7 separate regions of the Homo sapiens genome follow, and all the other regions are linked to region 1. Evidence: fine-mapped expression QTL. A gene starts in region 1. Each other region holds a variant in brackets. All regions are shown on one strand. Distances are from middle to middle. Region 1 holds the start of PJA2 (praja ring finger ubiquitin ligase 2). Region 2 overlaps PJA2 (praja ring finger ubiquitin ligase 2). Region 3 overlaps LOC105379117 (a long non-coding RNA gene). Region 4 holds the start of LOC105379119 (a long non-coding RNA gene). Region 5 has its middle 100 kb from the start of MAN2A1. Region 6 overlaps PJA2 (praja ring finger ubiquitin ligase 2). Region 7 has its middle 28 kb from the start of PJA2.

Evidence for each region. PIP is the estimated chance that this variant, and not a neighbour inherited with it, causes the effect.
Region 2: its variant is fine-mapped to the expression of PJA2 in whole blood (TOPMed, PIP above 0.99).
Region 3: its variant is fine-mapped to the expression of PJA2 in whole blood (INTERVAL, PIP 0.99).
Region 4: its variant is fine-mapped to the expression of PJA2 in whole blood (INTERVAL, PIP above 0.99).
Region 5: its variant is fine-mapped to the expression of PJA2 in whole blood (INTERVAL, PIP above 0.99).
Region 6: its variant is fine-mapped to the expression of PJA2 in whole blood (INTERVAL, PIP above 0.99).
Region 7: its variant is fine-mapped to the expression of PJA2 in whole blood (INTERVAL, PIP above 0.99).

Annotation. Positions count from the first base shown.
Region 1 is chr5:109,407,805-109,411,804 of GRCh38, forward strand. PJA2 (praja ring finger ubiquitin ligase 2) reads right to left here and starts at 2,170. Exons shown (of 10, transcript NM_014819.5): 1 at 2,038-2,170. RefSeq lists enhancers at 1,255-1,354, 1,395-1,514, 2,625-2,804 and a silencer at 2,035-2,114.
Region 2 is chr5:109,371,889-109,375,888 of GRCh38, forward strand. The region is part of intron 4 of PJA2 (praja ring finger ubiquitin ligase 2); the gene reads right to left. Among named protein-coding and RNA genes, the nearest start is that of PJA2, 36 kb to the right of the region's middle. The variant T/C (reference allele first, on the strand shown) is at 1,942.
Region 3 is chr5:109,539,061-109,543,060 of GRCh38, forward strand. All of the region lies in intron 5 of LOC105379117 (a long non-coding RNA gene), which reads left to right. Among named protein-coding and RNA genes, the nearest start is that of PJA2, 130 kb to the left of the region's middle. The variant C/T (reference allele first, on the strand shown) is at 2,189.
Region 4 is chr5:109,905,963-109,909,962 of GRCh38, forward strand. It overlaps LOC105379119 (a long non-coding RNA gene), which reads left to right and starts at 1,541. Exons shown (of 3, transcript XR_948667.3): 1 at 1,541-1,659. The variant A/G (reference allele first, on the strand shown) is at 2,329.
Region 5 is chr5:109,587,448-109,591,447 of GRCh38, forward strand. It overlaps the pseudogene KRT18P42. Among named protein-coding and RNA genes, the nearest start is that of MAN2A1, 100 kb to the right of the region's middle. The variant C/T (reference allele first, on the strand shown) is at 1,715.
Region 6 is chr5:109,344,433-109,348,432 of GRCh38, forward strand. PJA2 (praja ring finger ubiquitin ligase 2) reads right to left here. Exons shown (of 10, transcript NM_014819.5): 8 at 273-387. Among named protein-coding and RNA genes, the nearest start is that of PJA2, 64 kb to the right of the region's middle. The variant A/G (reference allele first, on the strand shown) is at 1,637.
Region 7 is chr5:109,436,389-109,440,388 of GRCh38, forward strand. No RefSeq gene overlaps it. Among named protein-coding and RNA genes, the nearest start is that of PJA2, 28 kb to the left of the region's middle. The variant A/T (reference allele first, on the strand shown) is at 1,877.

The DNA.
Region 1 (4,000 bases):
AAAAAAAGAAAAACTATAAAAATTTCCCTAACAGTATAAAACAAGATGTGAATAAAATGGAGAGGCCACATTTCTGAGGAGAGAGACTCAATACTATAAAGATCAGTTGTCTCCAAATTAATCTAAAATTTCAATATAACCTTATTCAAAATAGCTAAGGATTTTTAGTTCAGTCTAAAGTTTACCTAGAAGAAGAAATGCATAAGAAACATTCAAGAATATTTTCAACAAGAGTAATAAAGAGGGAGAAAGGGTTACCAAAATTTAAAATATGCATAATCTTTTAACTGAGCAACTTCACTTCTAGGAACCCATGCTCCAGAAATAATCACACATAGAGGAAGTTTACTGAATTGTTAACAGTGGCTGACAATCAAGATGCAAGCAGGACTAGAAGTGGAAGCGGTAATTTTTACCTTACATTCTTCCATACTGTTTAATTTTTTAAAATCAAGGATGAATTAAAATTTGTAATTAAACATCGATCAATAAATTAGAAAGTTATTTTCATTATAAATCATCATTTGTAATAGCAAAAAGAAACTGCAATTAAATGTCTTTCAAAAAGGGAATAGAATAAATTATAGCCCATTCAAACTCACGAGATACCAGTTAGCCTTTTAAAAAGTATTAGGGAGACCTATATGTAAAAAGTAAAAATGTCCAACATATGTAATTAAGTCAATAAGCAAGCGGTATGCAAACATGTTTGGTATATGGTATAGCCTCCCTCAAAAAAAAAAACTTTACGTGTACTTGTATGTGTCTAGAAGTGCATTTGCAAGATTTTGAAAAATGAACACTAAACTGTCAACTTTACACTGGAGTGGGACTGGGGGATGAAAAGAAATATTTAAATTTTACCTAACAGTCCGTTATTTATATTGTTGAAGTGTACATCAAACTTGCATGTCTGCAATGAATTTTTAAAATTAAGTGGTCATCTCATATAAAAATGACATGAACCCCAAAAGACAATTACAACACTGAAAAATACAGTTTAAACGTTTATTACTGTTATCCTCAGGTTTATTCACATACACTTCAAATGATCCGTAGCCTTCAGCAAAGGTGACTGCCATTTTAAAGAAATGTGACCAAATATTTCATGATAAAACAGAATACATTAAGCCTGCAATGAAAATTTTAAACTTCACAGAACCAGCAGACTCAAAAGAAGCGCCTATGCGGATGTAAATTTTTTTTTTTTTAATGTCCGGAGAAGGAACTCTCAGATTACTCTCCTCCCTGCAAAACGACTATTTACCACCTCCCCTTTGCTTCAACTTGGTCTGAGCGTCTTTAACCTCACCATTTTGAATGTGCGCAAAATGATTACCAGTCATCTGAGGGAGGCCAAATTAAAGGTGCATCTGCAAGAGGAGCTCTGGCCTGACATCGCTAACTGAGAGCAGCCCTGGCGGAAAGGTGCTGATCCCGGGAGTAGAGCGACTGCTGCGGCTCGAGCGGGGTGTCTGCGTGCCGAGCCTCACTGACAATCGGGGAAAATGCAGACGCCCAGCAAAACGACGGCAACAGAAGGCTCCTCGGGGGAGGGGTGCTGCAGGCCTGTGGCGTAAGATGGTTCCGCTCTACGCGGGGTGACGGGAAACCGCAGAAGGTGGGTGTGAGGTGTTGGTTGGGGGGCAAACTCTTGTACAGTGGCGAGTGTAGGGGAAAGCCAGCGGGCTCCTTGGCCAAGTCACCAAGGACAGCAGAAGAGGCAGCAGTAAAGAGCGGCAGCGAAGACCCCGATACCAACCAATGTCATCTGTCGGGGGGCGGCGGGCGCGACCGTCCCGGATAGGAGCGCGGCCCGGGTCCGGGCTGGACAGGGCCCAGGAGGCGAAGAAGGCCTCCCACAGCCATCAACCCCACCCACCATGGCCGGCGCAGCAGGCCAGGGACAAGCCCCGCTCCTTCCGAAGCTAGAGACAGAGAAACTGAGGAGCTGAACGCAGCAATTTCCTCGCCCCGACCCCCACACTCCCGACAGCGGAACAAGCCAGACTGAAAAAAAAAAAAAAAAACCCTCACCGAAATGTGCAGCGGCTCCGGAGCGAGAACAGCGCTCGAACCTCCACCCGCCACCACCGCCTTCTTCTCCGCCTCCAACTCCTCCCCCGCCGAACGCGAAGCGGCTGGCGGCTGTGGCGGCGGCGGCGGCGGTGGCGGCGGCGGAAGCAGAGGCGGTGGCGGTGAGTCCCGCCCCTTGCGCCGCGGTGGAGGCGAAGGAGGAGAGTACGCAAGCCCCTCCCCCATAGCAGAGATGACCAGTCAGCTTACAGGGTCTCTGCTGGGGGACAATGCATACGCCCAATCAGAACCTGAGGAGTGGGCTCACGTCAATGGTTGGGACGTGGCAGAAAAAGGGAAAAATACTTGGACCTTCTCTACAGCCTGCTCCCCCATCTCCCTCAGGGGGAGTTCACCAATTGGCTGAAGAGCGGAAAGACGAAGCCGACTCAGTCCCCCGCCCCAGCCGAGCCCACCTCCTTTCCCTGCAGTACTGCGACGTTTGGGGAGGGGGCGGAGCACCGTGTAGGAGCTAAAACTGCGCGGCCTTTTGTGGTTTGGGCTGAGAGAAAAGGGCGGGGTCTCGGAAAGGGAAGGGGGTGTGGAGAACTAACAGAAAGACTGGCGCAGTTAGGCTTTTTCGGAAATTCCAACAGCAACAACCAAAATGGAGGCATTAAAATCGATCCTGATTCGACTGGAAACCTGATTAACAAGGTTAAGGTCTCCTGGCATAAAGTTCAGTTACAATGCAGATATCGGTGAGACAAAAAAAAAAAATGACACGAAGAAAGGCTTGTTTACCCACCCTGACCCTGGGCACTATATGGCGCTTTCCACCCTCCCTCTCCGCGCTGACCCTTGCCCCTCGCTTCTTATTCTGCTGGGGCGGGGTTCAGAGGAGGCCTGCCTTTCCTCTGTATAGCCTTGGGCTGACCACAGCCTCCCAGCTTGCATCTTGAGGCTGTTTGTCAAGCCGGGAAGTAACAGCTCCCATCACATGCAACCAAAATAAATACAACAGCTGCAGTCCCCGGACACCTTGCTTAATTTAAACCTGGGTAACAGTTTAGTTAATTATGTCAGTGATACAAAACTGTTTCTTCGTTCCGCACATATTCCCTTTATTCATCTTGAAACGTGTCCGCTTATCTGATTACAGTCCCTCTGTCTTCTCTTATTCCCCACCCCCGACCCGTCGCCTGATGCCCAGGATATATTCATCGCCACCCCTCCCCCGCGAATTAAGAGCCCCACTTCTTGTGCTGTCCCCTTAACAACAGCGAACTCTCTTGCCAGTGAACTGAGACTAATTTTTTTTTGCTGTTGATGGAAATAAATTACCCAAAATTTACTGTAGAAATTTAGGTTTATGAGAATTTGCCAGACATTTTGTGAAATCCAATCTGAATCCCAGCCCACTCCTGTAGTACGTTTCTTACCAAAAAACCATTCCTTGCTTGATATTACTCTGCCTTCACACGTGTTGCTATAGGAGTTCTGACTTTAACCATCCAAGTACCTCTTTGAAAAAAAACAAAATTCATATTTTAATTACATTTCCCTAGTTTCCCTTTAGGGTGTTCCAGATTGGCCCAACTGGATACATTAACCTGTTCTAGAAGGCAGGGATTCCCAAATTTCAACCTTTTTCATACTGTATCTGTGTATACTACTCACTGTCCTTTTTTCTTTAAATAAATGTATATTTTCTTTAATTTCTTTAAGAAGGAGACTTTATAAAAGTACTATAAATGGAAAACTAGCATCACCTATTATAAGTTGAAAGTAACTGTAAGAAAAATGAATGCAAAACAATGTTTTTAAATTGTGGCTAGAAACTGTTGTCCACTAAAGGCTCTAAGTCTAAAGACAACTGTCTTTGTTAAAAGGGCAAGCTACCAAGCATTAGACACACATTAAAGATACAGCACTCAAATGGTATTTTTATCATGATGTCATCAAAGGATAGAAAAAATAGAGC
Region 2 (4,000 bases), 36 kb before region 1:
TTTTTAGCCTCACATATCAGGTGAATACAACAACAGTATTTAATAGTTCACTGGGTTCATGTAAAGGGTAAGTGAGTTAATATATATAAAACATTTTCACAATGCCTGATAAATAATGAGCCATCAATAACTGTTAGCGAGTCTTTTTTTAACATTTTTTTAAACTCAAATACATTTAGTTAGGATAAGCAATAGCCATTAAGTCCTGAATTTGATGTGCTACCTATATTTTCTTAATTTCCATTAACATAAATACATAATGATTAAATTAAAAACATTGTGTACCACTTAATATATTTTACCCACTTTGGAAATAGTGACCTATAGAATAAAAAGTTAAATGTCTTTGAATAACACTTATAATTTACTGCTATCTGATCCCAGTACTTTCTTGCATCCAACTCAAGAATGCTCTATTTCAAACAGTGTCCTCAAAGTGGGCATTCTTGCCATCAGGAATATCTTTATAATCACTTCACCTTTTCCCCACTTCCAAACACAGATCAGACTCTATTTCTTTCAAGACCTTCCTGTATAAAATCGCTTCTTTTGTTTTTCAATTATTTCATGAACTAGACTTCTTGTTTACTCAGTGCAGCTCACTACAACACAGCTGCTTCTTTAACATTGCAATTATTTTTCATAATAGTGCAGAGAAATCAAAGAAAATGGGTACTGAGAAAAGACAAATGGATGTGGAAATCAGGAGGTCACCACTGACATTAAAGAATATAGGGCCGGGTGCAGTGGCTCATGCCTGTAATCCCAGCACTTTGGGAGGTTGAGGCAGGTGAATCACCTGAGGTCGGGAGCTCGAGACCAGCCTAAGCAACATGGAGAAAACTGGTCTCTACTAAAAATACAAAATTAGCTGGGTGTGGTGGCGCATGCCTGTAATCCCAGCTACTCAGGAGGCTGAGGCAGGAGAATCGCTTGAACCTGGGAGGTGGAGGTTGTGGTGAGCCAAGATGGTACCATTGCACTCCAGCCTTGGCAACTAGAGCAACACTCCGTCTCAAAAAAAAAAAAAAAAAAAAAGAAAGAAAGAAAAAAAAATTAGCCAGGCATGGTGGTGCACACCTGTAGTCCCAGCTACTCAGGAGGCTGAGGCAGGAGAATTGCTTGAACCCAGGAGGTGGAGGTTGCAGTGAGCTGAGATTGCACCGCTGCACTCCAGCCTAGGTGACAAAGCGAGACTGTCTCAATAAAAAAGAATACAGAAATAATATTAGGAATTAGATTTCAAGGCAGTAAGAAGAGTGGATAGTGACAGAATAGAGACAGTGGGTATGGAAAACTTTTTCTTAAAATTCAGCAGTAGAAAAGAAAACACAAACAGGCAAATAACAGAGCAAGAAAAAGTAAAGGTTTTCTTCAAGATTGAGAAAAACTCAAGGTTGAGAGACAGAGGGAAGCAACCTGTGAGTAAGGACAATTAGATGAAGTGTCAGAAATAACTAGAGGCACAGAATGAGAGGGGCTACCTCTCTTCATTGAAGAGGAAATTAAAAATACAAATAAATACTACTATCCCCTAATATGGAGAAGAGGAAAATAAGAAAATTCACATTTACATATTTTTAACTTCTACAGGAAAATAAGAAACGAAGCTAACCATTAGGAGTGACAGGAGTACATGGAAGGAAAAAAGGGAAAAGATTTAAAAATCACTTTTTAAGGAGTAAGCAACAGAACAAATAGGACACAAAAATGATCATGGAACAGTGAAGATCCATTTGTTCTAGATTTTAAAAGCGGGTGAATGACACATTTAAAAGTTCTCAAAGTAAAAACTAAATTAAGTACTACTTTGATCTTCATATGATCCTTCACTGGTACTGATCCCTTTTAGCACCTAAGAGTTGTATTTAAAAAGCAGACAACTATAATTTACTCAAATGTTACACTCTACACATTCAATTGTGAACTAAAAAAACTTGA[T/C]ATACAGAATGAAATTATAGACAAAATTTATGTACAAATCCTAGGCAGAAATAAGCTATGGAAACATAAAACCAACCAAAAGTAATCTCTCATTCCATAATTCCCCAAGGTACTTGTTACTTTGTTCTTCCTGGCATTTATCACAGCCACAAGAAACTCAACTACAGGAGCCTAGGAAAAAGTGAAATTTTAAATATTTTGTTATCTGACATAATCTAAACATTCTGGAACTTTTTACCACTATTAACACTGAACTGTAATGTAATACAGTGATATGAATGGATTATGTCCAAATATATAAGTCTGCTTAATTTCATTAAGATGGCTATGATTTTTGCATTGTGCCTGCTTTTTGTCACTTTCTGGTCTTTTTCCTTAGTATCAGGTTATTGTAATCCCATGAACTCCCTAGCATATCTGCAGAACAAACACATTTATACCTAATGTGCTCCTTCCAAACTTCTATGAACTTGAAAACAAGATAAAAAGGTTTGCTAAAATGTCAGCACATATGCTTTAAGATCTGTGCCTTGGCTGCATATAGATGTTTTATTTGTTGGGGGTAGTACCAAGTTCTCAGACAAACTCTTTCTTTGTGGCTCTCAGGTAACCTACACGGAACAGGAAAGGCGCTTAATTCAGCCTCACAATAATAAATACGTATATTTTGTCTTCTTCATAAAGCTAGTGAACCTTGTGGGAACAGGGACCATTATGATTTGTATTAACAGGGCACCTGGAACAAAGTCTGGCACTTAAGATTTCAACAAATCCTTTAATATATCATATTGAAGTCAACTAAATGGCTAACAATCATTTTATTTCCCAACATCATCAACAAAGTAAGTTGTCCCAACATTTTACCTTAAGTAAGGTTTTTAAATTTTAAGCAAAGTTAAGTCCTAAGGCCACAAAAATTCTGCAAGAAACCTCAAATGCTATAAGTAAGGAACAGACAGTAGATGGCATGCCTCTCTTCAGAGCAGTTAGGCCCAAGGTTAAGATATGCTAGTATTGCTGAAAGGTTTTTTTTAAACTCAAGATCTTGTCCTCAAACAGTTACTAAACTTCTCAGGGTATATTTCAAAAGAGCAGGGTATTAACCTTAGCTCTTTGGTCTAATTCTAAGTCTGGTAATTATATGCTGCCTATTAAAATTCCCCTTGGAATCCTAATTTAATAAGGTGGTGCTCAGTACCTGTCAAACAGCTCAGAGCAATGCTACTGGCTGCAATGTTTATCCCACAGAGTGTAACATTTCAGATGTGATTAAATGATCATTTAGAATTTTTCAGGGAAGAAGGCAATCATGAATTCATTAAAATACTTTTCTACTTAAAAAGAATATATAATTCATATTTTTAAAAAGTAGCCAAAATTCCTATATCTAAAAATGCTGGCCGGGTGCAGTGGCTCACGCCTGTAATCTTGACACTCTGGGAGGCTGAGGCGGGTGGATCACTTGAGGTCACAGGTTCAAGACCAGCATGACCAACATGGTGAAACCCCATCTCTACTAAAAATACAAAAATTAGCTGGGCATGATGGCATGCCTGTGGTCCCAGTTATTCAGAAGGCTGAGGCAGAAGAATCACTTGAACCTAGGAGGCAGAGGTTGCAGCGAGCCGAGATCACGCCACTGCACTCCAGCCTGGGCAACAGAGAGAAACTCTGTCTCGAAATAAATAAATAAAAAATAAAAAAATAAAAATGCCACAATGAACTTTAGTTATATTCTTGATGAGTTCTACTTTGGCTATTATAAGCATGACAAAAAAAAACTTTTCAAGTATATCAACTTTTTAAGCTTTACAAAAAAACTCAAAGTTCACAGGCCCAAATTAAGCAGCAGCTCTTATACTTTCCATCCAAAACCTGAGAAGACTAGCATCACCATCTCTCCAATCTACAAATACAAGAACTAGGGAGGATGACAATGAAACATCAGGGAGATGAACAAGGGCAAAATGAAACTAAATAGGAGTGTACAGCTATTAAATTCCAACCTTTAGCTGGCACCATATTAAAAAGGCACCCTGGCAACTATAATCCTTTGCAG
Region 3 (4,000 bases), 130 kb after region 1:
AAACCAGAACGCCTCTTCTCCTCCAAAGGTCCACAACTCCTCGCCAGCAAGGGAACAAAACTGGATGGAGAATGAGTTCGATGAATTGAAAGAAGTAGACTTCAGGAGGTGGGTAATAATAAACTCCTCTGAGCTAAAGGAGCATGTTCTAACCCAATGCAAGGAAGCTAAGAACCTGGAAAAAAGGTTAGAGGAATATCTAACTAGAATAACCAGTTTAGAGAAGAATATAAATGACCTGATGGAGCTGAAAAACACATGAGAACTTTGTGAATCATACACAAGTATCAATAGCTGAATCAATCAAGTGGAAGAAAATATATCAGAGATTGAAGATCCACTTAATGAAATAAAGCATGAAGACACGATTAGAGAAAAAAAGAATGAAAAGGAATGAACAAAGCCTCCAAGAAGTATGGGAATATGTGAAAAGACCAAACCTACATTTGATTGGTGTACCTGAAAGTGACGGGAAGAATGAAACCAAGTTGGAAACACTCTTCAGGATATTATCCAGGAGAACTTCCCCAACCTAGAAAGACAGACCAACATGCAAATTCAGGAAATATGGAGAACATTGCAAAGATACGTCTTGAGAATAGCAACCCCAAAACACATAATCATCAGATTCACCAAGGTTGAAATGAAGGAAAAAATGTTAAGGGCAGCCAAAGAGAAAGATCTGGTTACCCACAAAGGGAAGCTCATTAGACTAACAGCAGATCTCTCTGCAGACACCCTACAAGCCAGAAGAGAGTGGGGGCCAATATTCAACATTCTTAAAGAAAAGAATTGTCAACCCGGAATTTCATATCCAGCCAAACTAAGCTTCATAAGAGAAGGAGAAATAAAATCCTTTACAGACAAGCAAATGCTGAGAGATTTTGTCACCACCAGGCCTGCCTTACAAGAGCTCCTGAAAGAAGCACTAAATATGGAAAGGAAAAACCGGTACCAGCCACTGCAAAAACATACCAAATTGTAAAGATCATCAACACTATGAAGAAACTGCATCAACTAATGGGCAAAATAACCAGCTAGCATCATAATGACAGGATCAGATTCACACAACAATATTTACCTTAAATGTAAATGAGCTAAATGTCCCAATTAAAAGAAACAGACTGGCAAATTGGATAAAGAGTCAAGACCCATCAGTGTGCTGTATTCAGGAGAGCCATCTCATGTGCAAAGACACACATAGGCTCAAAATTAAGGGATAAGGGATGGAGGGATATTTACCATGCAAACGGAAAGCAAAAAAAAAAAAAAAAAAAAAAAAAAAAAAAGCCAGGGTTGCAATCCTAGTCTCTGATAAAACAGACTTTAAGCCAACAAAGATCAAAAAAGACAAAGAAGGGTATTACATAATGGTAAAGGGATCAATGCAACAAGAAGAGGTAACTATCCTAAATATATATGCACCCAATACAGGAGCACCCAGATTCATAAAGCAAGTTCTTAGAGACCTACAAAGAGACTTAGACTCCCACACAATAATAGTGGGAGACTTTAACACCCCACTGTCAATGTTAGACAGATCAATGAGACAGAAAATTAACAAGGATATTTAGGACTTGAACTCAGCTCTGGACCAAGTGGACCTAATAGACATCTACAGGGCTCTCCACCCCAAATCAACAGAATATACATTCTTCTCAGCACCAGATTGCACTTATTCTAAAATTGACCACATAATTGGAAGTAAAACACTCCTCAGCAAATGCAAAAGAATGAAAATCATAACAAACAGTCTTTCAGACCACAGTGCAATCAAATTAGAACTCAGGATTAAGAAACTCACTCAAAACCACACAACTACATGGAAACTGAACAACCTGCTCCTGAATGACTGCTGGGTAAATAATGAAACTAAGGCAGAAATAAATAAGTTCTTTGAAACCAATGAGAACAAAGATAAAACATACCAGAATCTCTGTGTCACAGCTAAAGCAGTGTTTAGAGGGAAATTTATAGCAGTAAGTGCCCACAGGAGAAAGCAGGAAAGATCTAAAATCGACACCCTACCATCACAATTAAAAGAACTAGAGAAGCAAGAGGAAACAAATCTAAAAGCTAGCGGAAGACAAGAAATAACTAAGATCAGAGCAGAACTGAAGGAGATAGAAACACGACAAACCCTTCAAAAAATCAATGAATCCAGGAGCTGGTTTTATGAAAAGATTAA[C/T]AAAGTAGATAGACCACTAGCCAGACTAATAAAGAAGAAAACAGAGAAGAATGAAATAGTCACAATAAAAAATGATAAATGGGATATCACCACTGATCCCACAGAAATACAAACTACCATCAGAGAATACTATAAACACCTCTATGCAAATAAACTAGAAAATCTAGAACTGGTAAATTCCTGGACACATACACCCTCCCAAGACTAAACCAGGAAGAAGTCAAATCCCTGAATAGACCAATAACAAGTTCTGAAATTAATAGCCTACCAACCAAAAAAAGCCCAGGAACAGATGGATTCATAGCCGAATTCTACCAGAGGTACAAAGAGGAGCTGGTACCATTCCTTCTGAAACTATTCCAAACAATAGAAAAAGAGGGAATCCTCCCTAACTCATTTTATGAGGCCAGCATCATCCTGATACCAAAACCTGACACAACAAGAAAAGAAAATTTCAGGCCAATATCCCTGATGAACATCGATGCGAAAATCCTCAATAAAATACTGGCAAACTGAATCCAGCAGCACATCAAAAAGCTCACCCACCATGATCAAGTGGGCTTCATCCCTGTGATGCAAGGCTGGTTCAACATACGCAAATCAATCAACATAATCCATCACAGAAACAGAACAAATGACAAAGACCACATGATTATCTCAATAGACGCAGAAAAGTCCTTCAATAAAATTCAACACCTCCTTATGCTAAAAACTCTCAATAAGCTAGGTATTGATGGAATGTATCTCAAAATAATAAGTGCTATTTATGACAAACCCACAGCCAATATCATACTGAATGGGCAAAAGCTGGAAGCATTCCTTTTGAAAACTGCCACAAGACAAGGATGCCCTCTCTCACCACTCCTATTCAACATAGTATTGGAAGTTCTGGCCAGGGCAATCAGGCAAGAGAAAGAAATAAATGGTATTCAAATAGGAAGAGAGGAAGTCAAATTGTCTCTGTTTGCAGATGACATGATTGTATATTTGGAAAACCCCATCGTCTCAGGCCAAAATCTCCTTAAGCTGATAAGCAACTTCAGCAAAGTCTCACAATACAAAATCAATGTGCAAAAATCACAAGCATTCCTATATACCAATAATAGACAGCCAAATCATGAGTGAACTCCCATTCACAATTGCTACAAAGAGAACACAATACCTAGGAATAAAACCTACAAGGAATATGAAGAACCTCTTCAAGGGGAACTGGAAACCACTGTTCAAGGAAATAAGAGAGGACACAAACAAGTGGAAAAATATTCTGTGCTTATGGATAGGAAGAATCAATATTGTGAAAATGGCCATACTGTCCAAAGTAATTTATAGATTCAATGCTATCCCCATCAAGCTACCATTGACTTTCTTCACAGAATTAGGAAAACCACTTTAAATTCATATGGAATCAAAAAAGAGCCCATATCGCCAAGACAACCCTAAGCAAAAAGAACAAAGCTGGAGGCATCACGCTAACTGACTTCACACTATACTACATGGCTACAGTAACCAAAACAGAATAGTACTGGTACCAAAACAGATATATAGACCAATGGAACAGAACCGAGGCCTCAGAAATAACGCCACAAATCTACAAACATCTGATGTTTGACAAACCTAATGAAAACAAGCAATGGGTAAAGATTCTCTATTTAATAAATGATTTTGGGAAAACTGTCTAGCCACATGCAGAAAGCTGAAACTGGATCCCTTCCTTACACCTTATACAAAAATTAACTCAAGATGGATTAAAGACTTAAACATAAGACCTAAAACCATAAAAACCCTTGAAGGTAGGCAATACCATTTAGGACA
Region 4 (4,000 bases), 500 kb after region 1:
TGTGGAAATTGAAGCAGACCGTAGTTCATATTGTGTGGGAAATTTAAAGAGGTCTAATAGCCAGTAAGCAGGTATGTGAGTCACATCTCCCTGATGTTGTTCACATTCCAGTTGCTTGTTTTTTCACTCTAGTCCTGTGGATTCTAAAGTAGTACAACTCAAGTGACATCAGTTCATGAAGACAAAAGAAGCTTTTTGTTTGATTTTGGCTGGGTGGGTGTTTTGTTCAGGCAAGTATTGAGCAGAAGAAAAAATGTCTTTATAAATCCTTAGCTTAATGGATTTTTAAAAAATCAAATGTAAATTCTATTAAACTACTTTTCAGTTATCACATAATTTACTTAGGCATTTCTGCATAGCAAAATATATTTGGTCTAAATGCAAAGGGAAAAAAGTGATTTAACTTTGCAAGAAACTGTTCCTTTGTTTTTTTAAAAATAAGTATTTTTAAATTTTATGGGTACATAGTAGATGTATTATTTATGAGGCACTTGAGTTATTTTGATATAGGCATACAATATGTAATAATCACCTCAGGGTAAATGGAGTATCCATCACCTCAAGCATTTATCATTGCTTTGGGTTACAAACATACCAATTATACTCTTTTAGTTATTTTTAAAAGTACAATAAATTACTGTTGACTATACTTGTCTTTTGCTTTTAATCATTTAAAATAACATCCAAGACACAATTCTTGTAAAAAGGAAAGTTAGAAAGTTGATTTTTTACAGCATGTAAAATAAGTATATTTAGGTATGTAGCACCTTCCTGGAATAATAGGGGAGTCAATAGCAAAGCCTGTGTCCATTGTGTGTCACTGATGCATGTGTTGTGTAGAAAATCAGGAGGAACTATGGATAGGGCTCAGGGTATGAGTGCTGGCTCCGAACCTGATATTAGCTGTGACTTGAGACAAGTCACTTGACTATGCTGTCTTAATTTTCCAGTATGTGAAAAAGTGAAAGAAATAATATGACTTATTTAGCCCACAGGGTTGTCTACAGCAGAGGAGGAAAAGATGAATGTGATTAACATATTCAGCTGGGAAAATATGCAGCAAGTTTCAAATGAGAGCTGTGAGGTACAAAGAGAAGAAGGTTGAGAGAAAATTTGGAAGTGAAGAGCTAAGGGGCCCAAAAGTAGCATCTAGAGTGAGAAGAATGGGCTAGAAGAAAAGTAGCAGTGGGTTTGATGCGTAGAGAGAGGCTGGCATGAGCGTGGACAAGATACCATCACAGCAGAAAACATGGAGCCACTTGGTGATGGGTTGGAGTCTTCTACATTGACCTTGATGCAGTGTGTATCTTCTGTTAACCATCCCCATGCTGCAATCTGTGACAGGATGGAATTTGTTGTGAATCCTTGTAGGGTCAGGGCCAGGAATCAGTGAGAATGACTGCATTGTGTTGATACTTGAGTCCCCTGCCAAGCTTGGTAGATAGGAACAGTCCACGCGGTGGCTGAGAGTGATGAGGTAATAATTGAAGAGACAGAGTAAAATGAACAGAAAACCACTGGGTGTTCAGTGCACAGAACTTCTTGGCATGCTGGATTTATCCAGCAAGAAAAAGAAATAGAGGGAAGACATTGGCTGATGATCTCTCGCTTGTAGACTTAGTTGCTTAATTGCCAATGAGGGAGAGATGCTGCTTGCAGGTGAGTTGCCAAAGTGAATAAACATGAGTTATGTTAAGAAATTAACAAAAGATAAATTTCAGGCAAGTTTCTGGAAAACACAGACTGGTGAGAAGATCCACTGGACTGTGAAAAAGCCTTACCCTTGGAAAGCGGAGGGAGTGCCATCCTTTAAGATATTTAAAACAAGACTAGCTAAAGCATCTGCTAGAATCTTATCCAGAAGGGAAAAATCCAGATCTGGCAAGAGATGAACTAGCTGATGTCTGGGAGCTCTCACACCTCTCATTCTTGATGTTGAAAAGCTGTGGTCAAATCCCTGAACATTTTCCCGAGCACATTTAAGACTGGGAGCTGTGTGAATCATTAGTCATTCTGGTAATCTCTAGGAGGCAGTGCCAGCTGTGGAATTTTGAGCAGATGTGGCAAAACAGCAGAAACCACCTTTTGGATTCATATCCTCTTGTCTCTCACTCTTATCCTTGGAAGAATCTGAGCATATTTTTAAAGGGCAAGTTAGGTGGTAGTAGAGTTGTTAAAAAAGAAAAAAAAGAGAGAGAGAGAAATCTGTTTGAGAGAGAGAGCTTCCAACTTCCTAATTTATATTAAGGGGAGAATAATTGTAAATGCCCAGATTTAAGTACAGTAAACTATGCCTTGATCTAACCATTATAGGACTCTGCCCAACCC[A/G]GAACAATTATCAACTGTTAATTATGCGTTTGAGCATGAGGCCCAGCAAATTGATAATTCCAGACCATCTTCCCTCTGCTGCCTATCTGTTTCTAGCCTGTCCCTTGGCTATTTGCTAGCAGAATAAACTATATCCTTGATAAGACTGCCATTTGAGAAAAAAATCCGTCTGGAAGGACTGGCAGAATAGAAGGGATAGGAGTGCTGCCTTGATAAGTCATAAAGACCATCTGTCAGCTCTGAATCTCTGATCTAGGCTGATTGGGGAAAAGACAGGTGCAGATTGAAGTTGAAAACAGTTTTTTTGAATGAATTTGTCAAAAGTTTGCCTTACTTAATTTCCACGAGGGTCTAAACCTGTGACTTTGAATCGGCCCTTGAGAGTGACATTTCCATTGCCTGACTCTCACACACATGTTGTGTAGAAAGGCAGAAAGAACCATTGATAAGGCATCAGAAACTCAGGGAATGAGGCCTGGCTGTATGTGACTTTGGACAAATCACTTGACTGTGTTATTTTAGCTTTCTGGTGTGTGAAAAGGTAGTAACTCTCTTTTAGAGTTAACCCACAAGGTTGTATTTATTAAGGGAGGAAAAAAAGGAGCAATTAATGTATTTTCTTCTGAAAGAAAAGCATTTAGATTAGAACAATTTGTCCTATCAAAAGCCAATTTCTCTATTCACTTAGTAACTGCAGCTCATCTCCTTTTACTTACTTAACTCCAGAAGTTCATCTTGTGTTCTGTATCATTAATATTCCCCATCAACTGGATCATTCCCATGGGTATACAAAAACTCTTAATATTTCTCATGTTAAAAGAACAAACACAAAAGAACTTTAATTCCCAGTCCCATGTCTTTCTCCACCTACTGCCCACTTGCACTGCTCCCCTCCATGACAAAACACTCAATGGAGTTGTCTATACTGTCCTTCTGCTTGCTCATCTTCCAGTCTGTTTTTAACTCATTTCATCAGGCTTTGTTCTCATCACTCATTTGAACCTGTTCTGGTAAAGTCACCAGTGACTTCCACATTGCTGAATCTAGTGATCACCTTACAGCACTCATTCTTCGTCAACTCTCTGCATCATTTGACACAATTTTTTACTTCTTGAAACACTCTTCACTTGACCTCCAGGCTGTGACAATTTTCTCATACTCATTCTGTCTCCTCAACTACTTTTCAGGCTTCTCTATGGGTTCCTTATCTTCTTTCTGATCACTGTTTTGGAGTTTGGGGGGGCTTATTTATCAGATTTTTGTCTTCTCTGTATTGTTAGGTGACTCCATCCAGTTTCATGGCTGTAAATATTATCTCCAGCCTCAACTTGTCCTTTGAATTACAAACTCCCATCAAGGTGCCTCTGTGGCATTGCCAGTGTCTATCTAATAAGTTTCTCAAACTTAGCATGTTCAGTACATCTATTCAGTTAGTCAGGCCAAAGTTCCAGGAGTTAACTTTGAATCTTCTTCCTTCATATCCTAAATCCTACCCATCAGCAAATCCTGTCCATTCTTCAAATTATATATCCAACTATTCTCCACCAAGTTCATGACTACTATCCTATCACTTGATCATTCTATTAAGTCATTAATATCCTATTCTATCATTCTATTAAGTCACCATCATCTCTCATTTGGACTAGGGTGAAAGTCTTGTAATGGATTTTGC
Region 5 (4,000 bases), 180 kb after region 1:
AATATGAAAGCACTTAGAATTTGCCACTTCTTTGGGCCTTCATTTGCTTAAGTATCATGTAAAACATTAAATAAATTTGTATGCTTTTCTCCTACTAATTTGTCTATGTCAATTTAATTCTCAGGCCTAGCCAAAAAAACTCTAAGAGTGTAGGGGTAAAATTAGCCTCTCCTATAGTGTGTGTGTGTGTGTTTATATATATATATATATGTTTATATACATATATATGTTCATTTATTTATTTATTTTACAGACTTTATGTTTGTAGAGCAGTTGTTTTAGTTTCCTAGCAAAACCGAGCAGAATATACAGAGATTTCCCACATACTCCCTGCCTCTCACATGCATAGCCTCCTCCATTATCAACATATTTGGTAGTTTCTTACAAAATTAAACATTTACCATATGAACCAACAATCACGCTCCTTGGTGTCTACAAGGAGTTGAAAACTTATGTCCACACAAAAACCTGCACATAGATGTTTCTAGCAACTTTATTCATAATTGTCAAAACCTGGACGCAATCAAGACCTCCTTCAGAGGCAAATGAATACATAAACTGTGGTAAATCCACACAGTGGAATATTATTTGGCACTAGAAAGAAATAAGCTACCATGCCGCAAAAAACACATAAAGAAAACTTAAATGCATATTATTAAGTGAAAGACGTCAATCTGAAAAGGCTACATTACTATACGATTCCAACTCTATGACATTCTGGAAAAGGCACAATTATGGAACCAGTAAAAAGATCACTTGTTGCCGAAAGTTGGGGTTGGGGGTGGGAGAATGAATAGGCAGGTCACAGAGAATTTTTACAGTGATAAAAATATATGATTATGTTGTCGGCAAAGCCCGAGTCTTGTCCTCTCGCTCTCCTCCCCGGACAGCATGAGCTTCACCACTCGCTCCACCTTCTCCACCAATTACCAGTCCCAGGGCTCTGTCCTGGAGCCCAGCTACGGTTCCCTGCCAGTCAGCAGTGCAGCCAGCATCTATGCAGGAGCCGGGGGCTCCGGTTCCCAGATCTGCGTGTCCCGCTCTGCCGGCTTCCAGGACATGGCGGCATGGGGCCTGGGAGCCTGGCAGGAATGGAAGGCATCTAGAACGAGGAGACCCTGCAAAGCCTGAACGACCTACCTGGACGAGTGAGGAGCCTGGAGACCGAGAACTGGAAGCTGGAGAGCAAAATCTGGGAGCACCTGGAGAAGAAGGGACCCTAGGTCAGAGACTGGAGCCATTACTTCAAGACCATCGAGGACCTGAGGGCTCAGATCTTTGCAAATACTGTGGACAATGCCCGCATCATTCTGCAGGTCAACAATGACTGCCTTGCTGCTGCTGACTTTAGAGTCAAGTATGAGACACAGCTGGCCATGCGCCAGTCTGCGGAAAGCGACATCCGTGGGCTCCACAAGGTCATTGATGACACCAATGTCACTCGGCTGCAGCTGGAAACAGAGATCGAGGCTCTGAAGGAGGAGCTGCTCTTCATGAAGAAGAACCACGAAGAAGAAGTAAAAGGCCTACAAGCCCAGACTGCCAGCTCTGGGTTGACCATGGAGGTAGATGCTCCCAAATCTCAGGACCTCGCCAAGATCGTGGCAGACATCTGGCCCCAATATGACGACCTGGCTCGGAAGAACTGAGAAGACCTGGACAAGTATCGGTCTCAGCAGATTGAGGAGAACACCACAGTGGTCACCATGCAGTC[C/T]GCCAAGGTTGGAGCTACTGAGATGACGCTCATGGAGCTGAGATGTACAGTCCAGTCCTTGGAGATTGACCTGGACTCCATAAGAAATCTGAAGGCCAGCTTGGAGAACAGCCTGAGGGAGGTGAAGGCCCGCTACACCCTGCAGATGGAGAAGGTCAATGGGATTTTGCTGCACCTGGAGTTAGAGCTGGCACAGACCCAGGCAGAGGGACAGTGCCAGGGCCAGGAGTACCAGGCCCTGCTGAATGTCAAGGTCAAGCTGGAGGCTGAGATCACTACCTACCGCCGCCTGCTGGAAAATGGTGAGGACTTCAATCTTGGTGATGCCCTGGACAGCAGCAAATCCATGGAAACCATCCAAATACCACTACCCGCTGGATAGTGGATAGCAAAGTGGTGTCTGAGACCAACGACACCAAAGTTCTGAGACATTAAGCCAGCAGAAGCAGGGTACCCTTTGGGGAGCAGGAGGCCAATAAAAAGTTCAGAGGTCAAAAAAGTATACTATGATGTTAGATATATGTCATTGTTCATTTGTCCAAAGACTGTCCTTAGAATGTGCAACACCAAGAGTGAACTGTAATGTGAACTATGGATTTTGGGTGATAATGATGTGTCAATGTAAGTTCATCAATTGTAACAAGTGTACCACTTGTTGATACCATTAGGTCCAATTTCTTTGAATATACTGGTAATGAATAATACATTGTAATTAGGGGATATTACCACTTTAGAGTAAATTAATGATATGTTCCATTCCTTCTCCTCTTTCCTGTATTTTCATTGTGAAAACCCAAAAGAATTTATGTGGAGAACAAAAATTTCTTAGTTTGCGGGGAGAAGAGAGAAAACGAAGCAGGGAAAGCTAGCACCCTATTTGTAGGATCAGAACAGGTACTTATCAGAACAATTGAAAGGCACAATACGTGAGTTTCACAGGCAGTGGGGAGAATGTGTTTGAGAGCCGGGGCTCAGCCCTGAGAGGGCAGGTCTTAGTGAAAATATGTGGGCATTAGGTGCTCCTGATGGGAGAGAAGGCAACAAAAGGGGGCACTAGAGGTGTTGATATCAAAGCAGCTGTTGCACATATTTTTTCACAGAGCCAGCCACACTTCAGCTATGCTGCACCCACATTTATCTAGAAACAAATAAGGTGCATGAAAGCTCCTAGGGCTTTAAGCTTTTAAAAAGCTCAATGCAATTTCCAGCTTTTGCAGTTATTTAATCAAGGCAAGCAAGAGGGTTATAAATTCAACAACTTTGTGATTGAGATTAATGTGCTCAGAAGTTAACTCTTGCCTTCACAGTCAACTGAGAAGAGAACATCAGACATTAAAAATTCTCTAAATTAAATCTGCCTGCTTGGTGGCCTAAAACAAAACATGGCTCCTAGAATATAACCTTTTCATGGTTGGCAGCAGAGCCAGATTAAGTGGTGGCCAGTTAGGACATTAACCTAGACTTGCAATCTGTAAAGGCTGATAAAGCATCACTAATAATGTCACAAAATGAGTAAACATGGTTTCAAACCAGAATTTATTTCTGGAAGACTGTTCTATGACTAGAAGGAAACTTTTTATTATATTATATAAGGCTGATGATAAACTAGCCAAGAAGTTTTCTTAAAACTCTGTCTTCATTTAAGCTGAGACTTCAAAAGCTGAGAATAACACAACGAGTTATAGATATCAAGTGATGCTCATATTCTTAAAATAAAGTGCTAATCCACCATGCAAAGAAGCTCCACCAATTTTGCAGGTTTAGGCAAGCACCCATTTGAGGCTATAGACAGGTGTGAGTTGAAGTTGTTAGGTTGGGGGAGAGTAGTGGTTTTTGGAGGAAGTTAGTGGAGTACTGTGGCTGTCCCATCCTAGGCAATGTTAGGGTGGTAGAGTGTGTTTACCCCCACCTTAAGGAAGAAGAGCTTAAAGAAAATTACTTAAAAAGTTTGACTTATGTTCCTGAGGTTTGTAGGGAGCTGTGACTGGACAAGTATAAAGACGGGAGAGTATGGCTGCCTTGGTGGCGTCAAGAGACGAAGCAGCACAGTGGGTACAAGGCTCACAGAGGCCAGTATGTAGACTGCTGGGCTGGCTGGTCACACTTTGAGATTCAGCTAGTAGCAGGTAAGGTGACAAGCTCTCATGAAATGTTTTTTCCAAGTGGTTTCAGGTAGATTCCTATCACACAGCAAAAGCAAGATCACTACGGTGTTAGTTCCTCACCTCTCTAATGCTGGAATACAGTGCCAGGGGGTGGTGACACCGAATGAGAGGGGTGGTGTGG
Region 6 (4,000 bases), 63 kb before region 1:
TAATTGGCAGGCATTTCTGTCTAATACTTGGCAATTTGGAATCTAATAAATACTGCTTTGTAAAAAAGCTGACAGAGGAACATTTGTCTCAGCCTATCGCTTGAAAATTAAAAATATTCTTGTACTAGGTGAAAGTTTGTGAGCATCTGGTTTCTATAAAAAAAATCTAGTGAAAGTTTCTAATAATCAAGTATTTAATTATCTAGGTATATTGATAATATACTTAAATGTACAATGTGTTCTTCAACATTTGAGATCAACTTTGCCCTTACCAGTGTGATCTTCAAGAACAAGGGTCTCTGGAAGACCATCAATGCTTTCCTTACTAGCTGGTGGATTGGCCACCTCAACATCCACTGCAAGAGACTCTAAATGGGCCAGAGCAGTCTGAAAAACAAAAGGTACAGTTCTTTGTTAGAAATACTTTAAAACAGTAACAGAAAACTATTTTTAGGGTATCTCCAAAATTATATCACCATTATTCTCTTTTTGTTAGTTTCTTTTGCTTTAGTCCTTTGCTCCTTTTGCCTCTTCAGAAGGAACTACCACCATCACCAACAAACCAAAACATTAAATATACACGCAGAGCCCAACTTTCTACATGTGAAATAAAAATATACCTTGTCTCGGCCGGGCGCAATGGCTCATGCCTGTAATCCCAGCACTTTGGGAGGCCGAGGCGGGGTGGGTCACTTGAGGTCAGGAGTTCAAGACAGCCTGACCAACATGGTGAAATCCCGTCTCTAGTAAAAAAAAAAAAAAAAAAAAACAAAATTAGCAGGGTGTGGTGGCACATGCCTGTAATCCCAGCTACTTGGGAGGCTGAGGCAGGAGAATTGCTTGAACCCAGGAGGTAGAGGTTGTAATGAGCCGAGATCAAGCCATTGCACTCCAGCCTGAGCAACAAGAACGAAACTCCATCTCAAAAAAAAAAAAAAGCAGGTCGTGGTAGTGTGTGCCTATAATCCCAGCTACTGGGGAGACTGAGGCAGGAGAATCGCTTGATCCTGGGAGGCAGAGGTTGCAGTGAGCTGAGATCACCATGCACTCCAGCCTGGGTGACAGAGCGAGACTCTGTCTCAAAAAAAAAAAAAAAAAAAAACTACCTTGTCTCAATAATCATCTACTTCTCCGTATTTATATTTTGAAGGAGTGGTTACTTTTTCCAACTATTGGTTCCTATGTGAGATCAATAACATGAAAGAAAATAATAAACATTTTGGAAAGGTTCACTTCATGAAAGATAAAATGTGGCTGAGGCTACTAGAAGCTCCAGGTATGGAAGCAAATAATGCACTCCTGAATGGCTACATCTACTACTGGCATGGATTTGGCGCACCCACATTACCAGCTCACAAGTATTACTAGGTTATCTGGGTTGTGAATTTCATTTACAGGTTCAAATATCTGTGTCAAATTACTGTTCTAAGAAGGATGGAAAGAACATCAGATCATGTGATCATCTGGGATGCGTCATCCTCATCCTTTCTGGCTCTAATTAGACTAGAATGGCAGTTGAGACTTTTGTCTTTTTGTCTGCAACCTGTACAATTACTTGCTCTTGGTGCACATGCTGCTTCCCCTGCCTGGTGCTTTCTGTCCATCCTTTAAGTCCTATCACTCCCTCTGGGACTGC[A/G]TAAGTCCTGTCTCTTCCATGAGGCCTATGTCAGTGGTCCTAGACTGCACGAGTATCCTTCTGAACTGCTACTGTATTCAAAGAATTGGTATTACACCGTTTAATTATTACTTGTTAGTATTATATCCTAATTACAGCATCATAAGATCATGGAGCTATGAAAGACCTTGGCTTCTTTTTAGGGATGAAAAACCTGAAGGAAATTTGACAACTATCAAAACTGGGCCTCCCCTCCTGGTTGGAGTGCAGAATATTACAGCTGCTAGAGAAAACAGCCCAACAATTCCTCAAAATTAAAAACAGAATTATCACATAATCCAGCAATTCTAGTTCTGGGTATACACCCAAAAAGAACTGAAAACAGGGACTAAAACAAGTATCTGTACACCCATGTTCACTGCAGCATTATTCACAAGAGCCAAAAGGTGGAAGCAAATCAACTGTTCATTGGTGGATGGATGAATATGCAAAATGTGATATACACATACAGTGAAATATTACTCCGCCTTGAAAAGGAAGGAAATTCTAACACATGCCACGACATGGATGAACCTTGAAGACATTATGCTAAATGAAATAAGCCAGTCACAGAAAGATAAGTACTGTATGATTCTTACATGAGATACCTAAAGTAGTCAAATTCATTGAGACAGAAAACAGAATGGTGGTTGCCAGGGGCTGGAAAGATGGGAAAATGGGGAGTTACTGTTTACAGCAATGTGAATACACTTGATTACACTGAACTGTACACTTTAAAAAACTGTAGCAATAGTAAATTTTATATTATGTTTATTTTACCATAATAAAAAAAAATGAACAAGCCAGGTTTCCCATATAGAAGAAGAATTCTGCCTGATAGCTTAGCTAACACTCTATTCTTCTGGATGGCAAACATAATATTTATACATGCCTAAGGTCCTACCATAGATATTCCCAAAAAGAATTTGAGATGACTTATAATAGGGATTACAACTTGCCTTGGGCCAAGCCCAAAGCAAAATCAGGACTAAAAAAGGAAAAAGCAAAACGGTTCACAAAGAGTTAATAAACATAGTTAATATTATTGAACACTAAATTTGACTCTGGATATGCAGAGAAACACTGCAAAAAGAAAGAAACACTGTTCCAGTAATTGAATTATTGCTTCTCAGCTCCAAATACACCTTTCATTTCTGCCCTTTGAAAACAGATTTGGGCCTTTTAAATATTTTTCCTTTTGTTAGCTGACATGATTTTAAGTTTTGTCAGCAGAAGGTGCTGGAGAGACACAAGGAAAGGACTTTGCTTCATGGTTCCCTTGGGCTTGCCCCTGCAGTGTGCCAGGCTTCCCTGTGCACAGATGGCTTCTCCAGCATCAGACTCCTCCAGTGTGGGTGGCTTCTCCAGTGCCTGGCTCTTGAAGCACATGCTGCTTATCCAGTAACTGGTAATTACAGGACAAGGTTGCCAGCAGCTTCTCCTTGTACTCATCTTAGGTGGTTCTGCAGCAGAGTACCTAGGGGCTTGGTCACATCACTGTGAAGTTTCTCTTGCCCCAGAGGGCAGATTTTTGCCATGTTCCAGAAGGCAAATTTCCAGCAAGTTCTGCCAGCACAGTACCATAAATACTCCTCCATAAGCCATGGCTGTGTCCTTCCCAATAAGGTCTGGCTCTCAGCCTTAGACAGGAGGGAAGTAGAGTGCTCCATCTCAGCCCTAAAGCTGTTTCTTAAATCTGCTAATCCTATATTCTTTAGAGTTTGCTTTACTTCCTACTAGCCAATCCCTTGGTATTCTAAACTTCTGTTGCAGTTAATATTTACAGTAAATTTTCCCTGTTCAAATTACTGTATTTCTCTCTCTTGGGACTGAACTCAGACTGGTACAGAATTCATATTAAGAGTGGTCCCGGGACACAGAACTGGCAAGAAAAGGATTTGGGGGTTGGTTTGGTTACACCTGTTGAGCTTGAGCTCAGTGTTGAGCTCCTTGCCAATGAGAATGGGATGCTATTAATCCATAGTCTGTAGTGGCATCACAATTAATCAAGGTATCACTGTGGTTGACAGTGATGAAGATCCAACTGAAGCATGTGTCTTGAAAGCCCAGATAGCTCCTATACTTGATCTTACGGCAACAGTGATCTAACTGTAAAAATCGTGATGTGAGATGGATTATTAAGAGTGCCCTTGTGCACTTACAGAAAAAAATTACAAACTCAGGTCTCTTAAACCTCACAATAGGGTATGAGAGCCAGAAAGCATCCACGACAGCCCTAAAAGATGCTCTTGCTCCTAAAAATCAAACGCAAAATGTAATTGTGTGGATTGCTAAATGAAAATTAGAGTTGACTTCTTAGTCTCATCAAATTTCTCAAAAGTTTTA
Region 7 (4,000 bases), 29 kb after region 1:
CAAAGAATAGAACTATGGAGAAAAATATCTTGTAAACAGAAATAAACATCCTCAGCAAAGTATTATCAAATCAAATCTAACAACATATAAAAAGAACAATGCATTATGACCAAGTAGGTTTATTTGGAAAATGCACGGTTGGTTAAACATCTGAAAATCAATCAATGTAATTCACTGTGTTATTAAAATAAAAGGAAAAAGCCACAAAATCATCTCAACAGACACCAAAACATTTTTTAAAATTCAAGACTATTTTATGATTAAAAACTTGCAACAAATTGAGAATAGAAGAGGCTTTCCTCACATTAACTAAGGTCACTTATAAAAAACCCTACAGTTAACATCATTATCAGTGGAAAACAGCCCAATTCTTTGTATCTACAATTAGGAACAAACCAAGTTATGTCCATTCTTACTACTTTAACATTGCACTGAACAGCCTAGCTGATATAATACAAAAAGAAAAACAGGGTTAAAAACTGTAGAAATTGAAATGGAAAAAGTTAAACTGTCCTCATTTGCAGATGACTTGATTGTACATGTAAAAAACCCTTAGGAGTTTACAAACAAGGTACTAGAATTATTACAAGAATTTAAGATTTGCAGAATACAAAATCAATATTTGTAAATTGGATTTCTATATACTAGCAAACAATAAGCAATGAACAAAAAATTTTAAAACTCCATTTACAATAGAATTTAAAATATTATGGAATAAAGTTAATGAAAGCCATGCAAGCCTTGTACATTGAAAACCATAGAACATTGCAAAGCTAACTTAAAAAGACCTAAATAAATGGAGAACTCTAATTATGTTTACAGAGTGTAAGACCCAATATTGTTAAGATGACAACCTTCCCCAGGTGATCTATATCTTCAGTTTCATCCCAATCATAATTCTAATTGGCTTTTTATTTTTGAAGAAAATGAAAAATTGATTTAAAAACTCATATAGATTTATACATAAGAAATGAAACTATACAAATACTGGAAGAAAATATGTGTGAATCACTTTTTAGCATCAGTATTTACAAAAGCTTTCTGTGAGTCAAAATGCAGTAACAGGAAAGATTGATATATTTTATTAGGTGAATATAAAATGTTTACATATTAGAAACATCACAAATAACCTTAAAAGATAACTGACACACTAGATAAAACATATAGGAGAGATAAAGGGCTTATCTCTCAAATATAAAAATCACTCTTTCTGTAAAATAGAAGGGAAAACACACCAGTATCAAAAAGCACACTTAATACCCAGATCGTGGTTTCTAATACCATTCTCCAACGAAAGAAACCAGGGCTCCTTGGAGAAACGGCTGACTCTACCACTTGGGCAAGTACTATACAAGATGAGCCGGGAGCATCTTATAATACCAGAAAGTACGGAAATGCTGCACACACACACACGCCCCACCCCCCAAGCAAAACCTGAAACCCATATTGATGAGGGTGTGTCAAAGGTGCATAGGAGCCAACTTGAGAGAGTTCTTACTGGCTGAAGCTGAATCAGTTTGAGCAACAAAATAAATAAAAGGGTATTGGATTTGGATTATAGCCTAGGACAAAATACATATTCATGAGTCTATACTGATACAAATAAATGATTGAATAAAGTAATAAATGGATGAGAAGGAGCAAATCTTCTGTACAGAAGAATTTCAAATAATTTATTTAGCTACTTCACCCTCAAGGAGATGGAACATAATTCCCCACCCTGAAAGCGTGGGCTGTGCATAGAGACTTCATTTCAAAGAGTACAGTATAAAAGAAATGGGAAGAAGTAATTTTACAGTAGTTCTCTACTGACAAACACTACCTAAGCCAGGTTATTGAGGTTAACATCGATATTCATAAATCACTTGTTGGTAGA[A/T]TGTACCCTATGATGTGATGAGAGTGGCTCTCTACCTGTGAGGTCTTGCCCCACACAACCAATAACCCCAGTCTTAGAATAAGAAAAACAACAGACAAATTCTAATCGTGCAGCATCCTACAAAATACCTGACCAGTTCCTCCAAACTGTCAAGATCATCAAAAAGAAGCAAAGTCTGAGAAACTACACAGCCAAGAGGGGCTTAAGTAGATACACCTCTAAAATGCTATATTGTATCCCAGATGTGATCCTAGAACAGAAAAATAATTAGGTAAAAACTAAGGAAATTCAGATAAACTATGGACTTTATAACATTAATATATTAATAATAATGTATCAATACTGGCTCCTTAATTGTAAACTATGTGCCATACTAATGTAAAATGTTAATAATAGGGAAAACTGGGTGTAGGGTATATGGTAACTCTCTGTAGTATCTTCTCAAGGTTTCCATAAACCTAAAATTGTTCTAAAACATCTATTTCTAATTATATTTTGAAAATTAAATAAAATAAAAAACAGGGGGAAGAGGATAACTAATCATTAGAAAAATGGGAAAAAGACAGAAATAGACAACTCACAAAGAAGATATAAAAATTGCCCTTAAATATCTGAAAAGATCTTCAGTTTCACTCATAATTAGAGAAATGCAAATTAAAACCTTTATTTTGTCTTTGCAAAACCTTTTCTATTTTGGAAACAGCACCCTCTTTTGTTGAAAAGGTGCTCTCTCACCCCACTTGATCCCTCTGGTTCTAGTTAAAACTATCAGTTGTGCCGGGCAGAGTGGCTCATGCCTGTAATCCTACCACTCTGGGAGTCTGAGGTGGGAGGATCACTTGGGGCCAGGAGTCTGAGGCTGCAGTGAGCCATGTGCTCCAGCCTGGGCGACAGAGTGAGACTCTGTCTCAAAAAAATTAAATAAAACTATCAGTCATAACCATTTGACACATACTAATCACTCAGTTATTGTTAGCTAGTAACTTGTTATCTGGCTGTGGTAAAACCTACACTTGAGAAAATTTCTATTCATGCATCTATTACATTAGTATGGTACATAGCTTAGAGTTAATGAGCCAATATTGACACATCATTATTAACTAAAGTCCATAGTTTATCCAGAAATTGAAACATGGTCCCCTTGCAGGTTAGGAAGATTGAAAAGAGGTTAATAGTCAGTGTGGTAGGCATAGTGGAAACAGCTATGTTAGTAGAAGAATTTATATGTGAATTAGGACATACAAGTTCTTTACTGGGTCAGGCCCAAGATATATGCTATGTAATTAGATTGAAAGTTCCCCTGACTCTACTCCCTCTTTCCTACTTGCATGATCAATATCTATCATATCAGCCACCGCAGTGACATGTTTGGGCTGCTATTAATTTCTAGGGTAATCATCAAGAAAAACCATTAAGAGAGTCCCTTTCTCTGACACACACTACTTGTTCATCATAAAATTGAAAGTGTGTGGGGAAGAATATCTTACATCAGAGGCCATTTGGGCCTCATTTACCTCTGTCCCCAGCTCTGAGAAGATGTTCATTTGCAGGTTTTAGATGATTGGGTCCTCTGTATAGTGGTGGATGGTGAAATCCAGCTTGTGATATCAGCCATTTCCTGATTACTTTATTCTTAGTAAACTGTAGATTCTCACTTTGTTTACAGATATTTTCTGGTTTCTAATACTGTAGCCATGGTGGCTTAGTTTCTGATCTCAGTATATAAATCCCCAAACAGACAAGCATTTATAAGTGGGCTTAGGCAGAGTCTGCTAACAATTGTCAATTTCTAGGAGTCCTGTGTCACTGATTAAACCTGAACTACCCGGGAGACCACAGGAAACACTGGAACGTGAATTTATCAACTTAAAATGAAAAATATCATGGGAATAAGAAGACTCATAATCAGAGTGAAGAACTTATTCTCGCCTTTAAGGTACATGTGATTAGAAGGTTATGTGGTAGACATAGAAATCTTAACAACAGGCATTAGATAAATCAAATGTTTGTTACTACCAAGGCTGATAGGTCCATATCTTTATGGATATAGTCTTGCTACAGGGATCAAGGTACTCAAAATATGATACCCAAGATTCCCTTTACTCAAGAATCTGCTGAGATGGA